Regions from separate parts of the Homo sapiens genome. Here region 1 is linked to region 2. Evidence: fine-mapped expression QTL. A gene starts in region 2. The other region holds a variant in brackets. All regions are shown on one strand. Distances are from middle to middle.

Region 1 (5,384 bases), 400 kb before region 2:
GCTGGGGTCATACCACGCAGAGCCTCTTCAACCATTCTTGAGAGACGAGAGAGAGAGAGAGAGATTTAAATTCTAAGTGTAATGAGATGGAACTGAAAGCTCTGAAGAGACAGAGTGTCATGACACAATTTAATATTTAAAAGGATCTTTCTGGCCTAGGGCAGAAAGAACATCATAGAGACATACTAGGAAATTGTGATAAACATCCAGGAAAGGGTAGATCACAGTATGTGATATGGTTTGGATCTGTGTCCCTGCCCAAATCTTATGTTAAGTTGCAATCCCCAGTGTTGGAGGAGGGGCCTGGTGGGAGGTGATTGGGTCATGAGGGTGGATTTCCTTCTTGCTGTTCTCATGATAATGAGTAAGTTCTCAGATCTGGTTGTTTAAAAGTATGTAGCCCATCCCCCTTCACTCTCTTCCTCCTTCTCTGACCATGTAAGATGTGCCTGCTTCCCCTTCACCTTCCACCATGATTGTAAGTTTCCTGAGGTCTCCGCAGTCATGCTTTCTGTACAGCCTGCAGAACTGTGAGTCAATTAAACCCCTTTTATTTATAAATTACCCAGTCTCAGGTAGTTCTTTATAGCAATATGAGAATGGACTAATTCAGTGAGGAATAGGAAGCTGGCAGTGGACATAGAGATGTGTGGACTAATTTGCAATCTATCTTTGATGATTTTAATATCTTATTATATGTAAGGGAAGATTTAAAGCCTATTTAAAGTATACAAATTAAGATACAATTATTAACTTATTGCTTTGATATCACATGACGTTACTGGGCTTTGGAAGGTGAGCAGAGGCTGCCTGGTGACCTGCCTGCTGGGTAACCCATTGGTTTTGGTGGCACACAGCTGCAGAATGAAACCTGAACATCTGCGACCCTTAACAACCTCCATACTACCATCTCAGGTCCTGCAAAGTCTGTTCCTGGAGAGATTGCTTGGAGGAGCCCCAGCACGAACCCTACTGAAGATGTCAGCCACTTACGCACTAATGGTCATGCCAAAGGTGTTTTCTTATGATGTTCCTCAGCCGTGGACCACTGGGGTGCCAGAGTAGAACTGGGGATCCCTGCAGAAACAGAGTTATAAGCACTGGCCCCTCCCCACTCTAACCACAGTCACATCTGGGGTCCCTGGCAGCCAGTTCATCTCAGTTGATGGCATCTCTGTCCTTCCAGGTCAAAGCCTCTAACTCACTTTTGCCCCATTCATTTCTATCCAATCTGTCTATCCAATCTGTCAGGAAATCCTCTTGCCACCTCCTCCAAATATACACAGATTCTGACCACTTCTCACCGCCGCCCTGCTACTCCCGGTTCTCATCCACCATGGCCTTTCCCCTGGATTCTGCAGTGCACCCATGATGGTCTCCCTGCTTCAACCCTTGACCCCTTGATGAGTCAGGGTACTCCAGAGAAGCAGCACAGATAGGACAGGCCTAGATGCATCAAAGGAGATTTATTATGGGGATTAGCTCACAGTATTATGGAGGCTGAGAAGTCCCATGATCTGTGAGCTGAAGAATGAAGAAAGCAGATGCTTTGATTTAGTCTGAGTCTGAAAGTCTGGGAACCAGGAGAGCTCTGTTGTATTCCAGAGTCCAGAAGTCTGAAGGCCCAAAAACCAGGAACTCTGACATCCCAGCGCAGGAGAAGATGGATATCCCAGCTCAAAAAGAGAGAGAAGAGAACTCACTCTTCCTCTGCTATTTTGGTTTTTTTTAGGCTTTCAAAAAATTAGATGATGTTCACCCACATTGGTGAGGGTAAATCCTCTTAACTCAGCCCACCAACTCAAATGCTAATGTCTTCCAGAAACATCCTCCAGACACACCCAGAAATAATGTTTACCAGCTATCTGGGCACCCCTGAGCCCAGTCAAGTTGACAAATGTAGTTAACATATCATCCCCCATCCCCCCATGCACACTCAAGGGTGTGGCAGCAGCCAGGGGGCCCCTCCTAGAGAGAACATGAGGCAGTGCCATCCCATTACACTCAGAGTAAAGCTCAGTGTCATTTTACAGTGAGCCCTCCGTACCCACAGGTTTTGCATCTCAAATTCAAAAACGGTATTTGCTGGATGCAAAGATTGTAAATTTGGAGAGTGGATGTGAGCATCCCCAGATGTCAGTATCTGCTGGAGTTCCTGGAAGCAAGCTCTGGTAGATCCCAAGAGACTGTACCTCTCTCTCTCTCTCTCTTTTTTTTTTTTTTTTGAGACGGAGTCTTGCTCTGTCGCCAAGGCTGGAGTGCAGTGGCGGGATCTCGGCTCCGTATCTCTTTTAATATATTTCAAAGCTACACATGATCTCCTCCCAGGCCTTTTTGAGCATCTCTCCTCCTACTCTCTTCCTGACTGTGTTCTGCCCACACTGACTTCCCGGCCTGGCCTTTCTGGGAACACACTGGGCCTGCTCCCCACTCAGGGCCTGGGCAGTGTCCATTCCCTCTGCCAGGCACATGGTCTAGCTCAACAAGTCATTGCTCAAAAGTCATATCTGGCTGGGCGCCGTGACTCACGCCTGTGATCCCAGCTCTTTGGGAGGCCAAGGTGGGTGGATCACCTGAGGTCAGGTGTCCGAGACTAGCCTGGCCAACATAGTGAAACCCCGTCTCTACTAAAAATACAAACATTAGCCAGGCATGGTGGTGGGCACCTGTAATCCCAGCTACTCAGGAGGCTGAGGCAGGAGAATCGCTTGAAC[A/G]TGGGAGGCGGAGGTTCAGTGAGCTGAGATCGCAACACTGCACTCACTCCACTCTGGGTGACAAGAGTGAAACTCCATCAAAAAAAAAAAAAAAAGTCACATGTCCCATGGTTTACCCTCACAGCATGGTTTAAAATTGAAGCCACAGCCCTGCCCAGCCTGCATGCATTCTCAGTCGCCTTATTCTACTCTTTCCTTTGCTCCACAGTACGCATCTCTTTATAACAAGCCACATGATTATCTTCTCCTTTATTTCTGTTCTCCCTTTCTCCAGTCCTCAGAATAGAAACCCTACAAGTAGAGGAGGCTTTGTGTGTTTGGTCCCTGCCCTCTCGGAACTAACATTGCTGGAGAGGGAGAGATCACACACACACACACACACACACACACACACACACACACATCTATCACATGTGTATCATTTACAAGATGAGTAGAAATGATGGGATGTTTTTCTGGGGTTTAAGGCATATTATTTTCAACAGGATGGTTAGAGAAGATGCCACTGGGAGGGGACATTTGAGCAGATGCCTGCAGTTAAAGGGGAGGCTCTTTCAGATGTGAGGGAAGAACATTTCTGGCAGAGGCAACAGCAGGTGTGAGACGGGAACTTGTGCTGTCACAGTTATCGGTAGTGCCCTGCCCCACAGCTGCTGAGCCCACTTTCAAATCCATCCAGAGCTGTGGAGTTTCGATTCCATCCAGAGCCATGGAGGGCAGTTTCTTTGCACTCTGGAAGCTTCCTGGATCCTTGTACATCTTTGCCTGGGAGCTTTCTCCAGCCTTGCAGAAGATGCTCAGCCTGGTGCAAGATAGCTTGGAAATGCTGCCAAAAGCAACTCTCAGCCAAAGGGAGGGACGAGTCCTGGACAGACAGCCCAGTGTCTCTGTCCCACAGAGCATCTTTTCTGAGGCACATCATGCATCATTCCTTAGAAGGTTCCCAGTGGAATGTGGGCCCCAGCGACATAGGAGCAGACACCCTTTGACACATACCTGTTGACTTCCTCTTTCCCCCATCTCACTTCCCCCATTCTCTCACTTGTGATTTCTTGGGTCCACTTTCACCTCAACCTAAGTCCCTGTATCAGTGTCTGCTTTGGGAAGAATTCCAACTAAGACATATGCTAAGAATGAAGTAGCAACAACTGACTGCTCACCACAGATTGGAAAACAAAATAGAGTTGCCTAATCTCTTCTTTTCCGCTTGCCCTGGCTGGTGGTGGGGGGAGCTGCATTTGGGCAGAAAGGACCCAGAGACCAGACCCCTGGGGACAGGACAGGAACCAAGGGAGTCCCCGCAGGAGGAGTTGAGGGGCAGTGCCAGCCAGTGGGTGTCTATATGGTCCCTGTGTGGCATCAGAGCCTTGATGTTCAGACTGAGGTTCAGACCTGGGAGGAGAGAATGAGGGTCTGAGAAGAAGCCTAGACCTCGGGAAGCTGAAAGGGCAGGCAAGGAGCCCCTGCTCAAAGATGGTTGGAGGACCAGAGGATGGGGCTTGGCTGCAGGAAACAAGGCAGACATTCATTACGGGCACCATGGTGCAAAGTCAGAGATTCCCTCATTAACCTATTGATCTGATGCAAATGCATCCAACTCATCTAAAGCATGGGGCTAACAGTGTACTTTGCAAATTCTGGATACATATTTGCTAGGTGAATATGTAACTGTAGAGCAGCCAGGACAAGCCGCATTCAATGCTTTGCAGTGGTTGAAAGTGCAATTTATCATCTCATCACTCCACTCTTTTTATCTTTTTTTTTTCCAGAACTAGCAATAGCCAAGTCTCTGGTAATGCAAATTGGTATTAACTTTTTATTTCCTCAATATATCAGAAATTTAAGTAACTGCCATTCTTGTGTATTTATGCAGGGGCTTAGGTGCATGTATTATTCATCTGGAGATTTCTCTCTGTGTTCACGTGTCTACAGCTCCACATTCCTAAATGGAATTCAATGGAAGACAACTTAAGATCCATGCCTGCCCACAGGAATTTCACTAGTGTCAGCTTTTTTTTTTTTGAGATGGAGTTTCGCTCTTGTTGCCCAGACTGCAGTGTAATGGCACAATCTCAGCTCACCGCAACATCCGCCTCCCCGGTTCAAGCAATTCTCCTGCCTCAGCTTCCCAAGTAGCTGGGATTACAGGCATGCGCCATCACACCCTGCTAATTTTGCATTTTTAGTACAGACGGGGTTTCTCCATGTTGGTCAGGCTGGTCTTGAACTCACCACCTCATGTGATCCGCCCGCCTCGGCCTCCCAAAGTGCTGGGGAGATTCAGCGCTTTAAACATCCTCATTGACTGATGTTTGGCTCTCTGTGGAATAGTGTGCACGTGTTTGTGCAGGTGTGGGTGGAGGCTGAGTTACTCTGACCTTCTCATGCAGATATGCCCTTGTTCTCGGAGCAGGAAACGCCCATGGAAATTGAAGAAGCATTATCATCTCATGTGCTTTCCTCTCTCCTGCTCCCACTACTCACCAACTGAATGTAGGATGAGGAAGGCGTGAAAGTGTTAGAAAAACATTGTTTGGTTAAAAAGATCTTGACATCTGAAGGGGTATATCAACTTCAACTTCCATCTCCTGAGATGGTACCAAAAAAAAGATGGAACACAACTATTAAAACAAAGAACTTCAGATGGTTGCTTTTTACTGAAGTTGTCAG
Region 2 (5,384 bases):
AAAAATACAAAAATAATTAGCTGGGCATGGTGGAACATGCCTGAAATCCCAGCTACTTGGGAGGCTGGGGCAGGATAATTACTTGAGCCTGGGAGGCGGAGGTTGCAGTGAGCCGAGATCGCACCACTGCACTCCAGCCTGGGCAGAAAAGCAAGACTCCATCTCGGAAAAAAAAAAAAAAAGAAATACTTCAACAACCTCTGTCAATATACACAGTGAGCAGGCAGTCACATCTGGGAAACTATTATTTGGGGCTCTAGAGGTAAATGTTTATGCGTTTATCTGGGACTGGCGTTGGGATATTTTGATCGAGATGTTACTGTTTATTATTGATTTTCCTTAGAATATCCTATATATCTACAAGCAATTACATGGTTATGCACCCTTTTTTGCACCATTTTTACATAAGTAATACATACTATACATGCCATTCTAAATTTAGATTATTTGGTTTTGGACTTGAAGGGAAAGAAGAGCTCTGGAAGTTTTGACACTGGGATTTAAATGCTCAAGTCCAGAAGAGGGATGGTTGGCTTTTGCTAGCAAACCATTGGCCAGACATAGTCACAAGGTCATCTTTGGAATTAATGAGGCCAGCAAGTGAAAGTCTATCATGTCTACTGCTAGAAGAGGCAACTGGGGAGTAGGGAGGTCACAGAGGTATGAAGTGGAGGCATCAGGTTTCACCAGCTGCTCAGTGAGACACTGGATCCCAGGTGGGGCAGAGTCTACGTAGAACCCAGTCATTTATTCACTGACTTTCCATTCATTCATTCGGTGTCCCCAGCCTCGTGCATGACATAGTTGCACATCCAGTGGGAACATAAAAAAAGCAGAGTTATATAAGGACCCTCAAATTACTTTCAAAAACAGATCATTAGAATGTGAAACATTCCCCCCTCTTGTCTTTACAAGTTTGCACCACATGAGCCTTTTTAACTGAAGAATTTTAACTTTCTAGAAGACAGATTGGCCTATCCAAGAGAGAGCAATCACTACTGAGGTCATGGCCATATATTCATGCATTGGGGTTGCTGGTTGGCTGGGCTCTCAGGGGTGGTCAAGAGGTTCCCTTTATTCTGAACCCCCTGTAGGGCGTGCTAGTCTTCAATGGAGAAGTTGCAGCTGGGATCAGAGACCCTCCTGGCAATTGCATGATTCACATCTCAGCAATAACATCTTGATGCATAAAGAAGAACACTGTACTTACAATCCCCGGAGGCAGAGGAGTAGACACACAATTACATGGCAGGGGCTTAGTTCATGATTAGGATGGCAAAGATCAGGCCCGGGATGGGCTGGCTGTATAACGCTAAATCAAAGAGGGCTCAGATTTATGAAACCAATAAATAAATGAGGCCCCAGACATCTGTCTGGAGTTGCTTGGGGAAATTCATTGATTTCAGAAAAAGGTATATATTAATAGTTTAAAAACATAAGAATAAAAATCACAGAGTTCATATCTTCAGCCTGAATATTTCTTCCTACTTCAAGATTCCTCCATCCAACTACCAATACCTGTCTCCAGTTAGATATCTACTATGCATCTTTAAATTAATATGTCTGAAACTAAACTCCTGTGTGCCACCACCACAATCTGCATGAACGAACAGATGAATGAATGAATGAATGAATGAATGAATGAATGAATGACTTACCATGACCATCAGAATCAAGGCACCTTGGTATAATATCTCTTTCCTTCCTTACAGCTGAAAATTTAGCTCTTGTCTTTGAAGATTCACTTCTGCCTCTCTCTAGCCCTGAATTGGTCTCTCTAGCAACATGTGTCTCCCCTCTGAATTCCTGTATGGATTTCAGACTAATGGCAGCCAAACCAGTGCCTGCACCCTTCCAGATTGTTTCTTCTAATTTAGTCCTCTGCTGGTGGTCTCCATGCACTCTCCTTTGCATATTCATCTGCAGGTCATCTTCACACATTCTTATCAGCCTAGGAGTCTTCTGTGCAGTGGTCTCTTCCTGCCACATCTCCCCTCTCCCCAGGAGATTAGAATGGCAAAGCCACACTCTATGGGATCTCAAGAACCCAAGTGTGAGATTTGCTTTCAGTATTTAGCAGAATTGGTGTTTCTGGGGCGGCAATCTCCTCCTGGAGATGTGTTAATCATTTACAGAATAGCCTGGACTAGTGTATGGGCCCTGCCCTTAGAGCCAATGCCACATTTATTTTTATTTTGCGAGATCTGCACTGACATGAAAACCGAAAATTCTATTGACGTTTCCTGTTCAACCTAAAAGCTAAATCCAGTTCATCACTGAAATCCCACAATGCCCTGAGACAAATAGTGCTTTAAAATATGTGGTGATTTTTAGGTCAGGTGCGGTGTAATCCCACACCTGTAATCCCAGCACTTTGGGAGGCCGAGGCGGGTGGATCACGAGGTCAGGAGGTTGAGATCAGCCTGATCAATATGGTGAAACCCCATCTCTACTAAAAATACAAACATTAGCCAGCGCCTGTAATCCCAGCTACTCAGGAGGCTGAGGCAGAAGAATGGCACGAACCCGGGAGGCGGAGGCTGCAATGAGCCAAGGTCGCGCCATTGCATTCCAACCTGGGCAACAGAACGAGACTCCGTCTCTAAGAAAAAAAAAAAAAAAAAGTGGTGATTTTTTTAAAAAGGAGTGGTTCATTCAGTTAAATGGGAAGAGTTGTAATGAGGGACTAAGTGGCTAAGTTGGCTGGACTTCCTGGGTCAATAGGGACTTCCCTAAGGGGACTTTCCCCTAAGCCAAAATGAGTCATAGCTGAAAGCTAAGGGATGGAAACTTCAACCAATCAAAGGGGACTTTCCCCTAAGACAAACTGACTCATAGCTGCAAGCTAAGTGGTTGAAACTTGAACCAGTCATATAGGGAGTTTAAGCTCTAGCTTCAGCCTGATGTTTTTAACCAACTAGGCCCGCCAACCCACAAGCAGATAGAAAATAAGCTGATTCTATAGGACAGAAAAAGGAAGAGGGCAGGGGTCATAAGGGGATGTAAGCATAAGATACCCAAGCCAGAAACAGCAACCCTTCCAGGTCCCCTTCCCCCACGTGGAAGCTTTCCTTTCACTTTCGCTTTAATAAATCTTGCCGCAGCACACTCTCTAATCGAGCTGTAACACTCGCCACTGCCGTCCACGGCTTCATTCCTTGAAGCCGTGAGACCACGAACCCTTCGATTGAGAAGAACCTTCGGTCGGAAGAAGACTTCTCGTCTCAGTAACAATAACAAGAAAAACAGCCTAGACTAGACGCACATCAGGAAGACAGGTAGTAACAAAATATTTTGTTGTTTGTACTTTTAGTGTTGTCTCTAAGACAGCTTTGCCTAACCCAGGCAACAAAAATTTAATCCTATACTTTCATCTAAGAGTATTACAATTTTAACTCTTTAATTGAGGTCTGTGGATCATTTGGAGTTAATTTTTGTGTGTGGTGTAAGGAAGGGATCCAAAACATACTTGTCAGCAGCAGTTGTGGAAAAGACTATTTTTCCTATTTTTTTCCTCATTCAACTGTCTGGAATTTTTGTTGAATATCAATTGACTATAAATGTAACGGTACGTTTTACGGCTCTCAAGTCTATTCCACTGGTCTGTGTGTCATTTTTTTATACCAATACCACACTCTTTAATTATTGTGCCCGGGTAATGTCTGACATTGGAAAGTGTGAGTCCTCTAAATGTGTTATTTTTCTCAACTGTTTTGGATGTTCTAAGTCCCCTGTGTTTCAATATGAATTTTATGATAGGCTTCTCAATTTATACAACAAATCCAGCCAGAATTTTGATAGGGACCACATTGAATCTATAGATCAATTTGAGGAGTACTGCCATCTGAACAATATTGTCTTCCAATCCACAAACATGAATTTTTTTCCATTTATTTAAATCTTCTTTAATTCTTTTCAACAATGTTTTCTAGTGCTACATGCATAGGTTTTGCACTTCCTTTTAAGAATTTATTCCTAAATATCATATTATTTCTGAGTGCTATTATAAATATAATTACATATTTTCTTAAAATCATTTTTGGATTGCTTACTTTTAGCATATAGAATTTCAATTTATTTTTGTATATTGATCTTGTATCTTGAAACTTTGTCCAACTAATTATTAGTTTTAATAGGTTTTAAGTGGATTTCTTAAGATGTTCCATACACAAGGTCATATCATGTTTGAATATAAATAGACTTACTTCTTTATTTCCAAACTGGATGCTATTTATTTATTTTTCTGGCCTAATTATCTTGGATAATTTCAGGAAAATTTTGAATAGAAGTTATAAGAGTAGACATTCATGTCTTATTCCTGATCTTAAGAGAAAATAACTCAGTCTTTTACTATTAACTATAATGACAGCTGTGGAGTTTTTTGTAGATGTCCTTTACCTTCTATTTCCAATTTATTGAGTGGTTTTTTAAAAATGTATATGAAAAGGTGTTGGATTTTGTTAAATGCTTTTTCTGGGTATACTGAGATGGTTATGTGGTTTTTGTTATTTATTCTAATAATGTGGTATTTAGATGGGGGTCTTTAACTGCTGGCTGAAGACTCTCCAAAGCTTGTTTTCCTTCTTCCAGAGTGATCTATAGTATTCAATACAGTGGTTTTCATTTGTCCTGTGCATCTGATCATAATGAACAGAACCTCTCTACTGATCACTGAAGAACCTATAGCATGAGTGAGAAATAAACCTTATTGTTTCAAACCACTGAGGTTCTGAGGTTGTTTGTTAGGTAGGTGCCTTTAAAATATGTCCACAAATTTTTCTTTAACAAACCCTCCCTTATCATGTTAAGTCTATTTCCCCTCTCAGTGAGTGAGAGTCCAAATGAGTTACTCACAGAAGTAATTTACAAACAGAAGTAATAATATATGGTGATATGGTTTGGCTGTGTTCCCACCCAAATCTCATCTTGAATTCCCATGTGTTGTGGGAGAGATGCAGTGGGAGATAATTGAATCATGGGGGGAAATTTTTCCCATGCTGTTCTCCTGATAGTGAGTAAGTGTCATGAGATCTGACCGTTTTATAAAGAGGAGTTTCCCTGAAGAAGCTCTCTTTCTCTTTGCCTGCTGCCATGCACGTAAGACGTGACTTGCTCCTCCTTGCCTTCTGCCATGATTGTGAGGCTTCCCCAGCCATGTGGAAATGTAAGTCCAATTAAACTTCTCTCTTTTGTAAATTAGCTGGTCTCAGGTATGTCTTTATTAGCAGTATGAAAACAAACTACTACATATGGCTTTTGGGCTAAGTCATGAAAATAAAAGGCATTGTTCTCTCTCATCACTTACTCTAGGAAAATCTGGCCGTATTTCAGCAAGACACTCAAACCCATGTAGCCAAAACAAAACAAACAACAACAACAACAAC

Evidence for each region. PIP is the estimated chance that this variant, and not a neighbour inherited with it, causes the effect. A credible set is the group of variants that fine-mapping cannot tell apart.
Region 1: its variant is the best candidate, but not a certain one, in a credible set for the expression of LINC00944 in whole blood (INTERVAL, PIP 0.83).

The regions. Positions count from the first base shown.
Region 1 is chr12:127,169,142-127,174,525 of GRCh38, reverse strand. All of the region lies in intron 1 of LOC105370062 (a long non-coding RNA gene), which reads left to right. Among named protein-coding and RNA genes, the nearest start is that of LINC02405, 110 kb to the right of the region's middle. The variant A/G (reference allele first, on the strand shown) is at 2,715.
Region 2 is chr12:126,769,973-126,775,356 of GRCh38, reverse strand. It overlaps LINC00944 (long intergenic non-protein coding RNA 944), which reads left to right and starts at 3,095. Exons shown (of 5, transcript NR_033878.1): 1 at 3,095-3,278. RefSeq lists enhancers at 2,767-2,846, 2,322-3,521.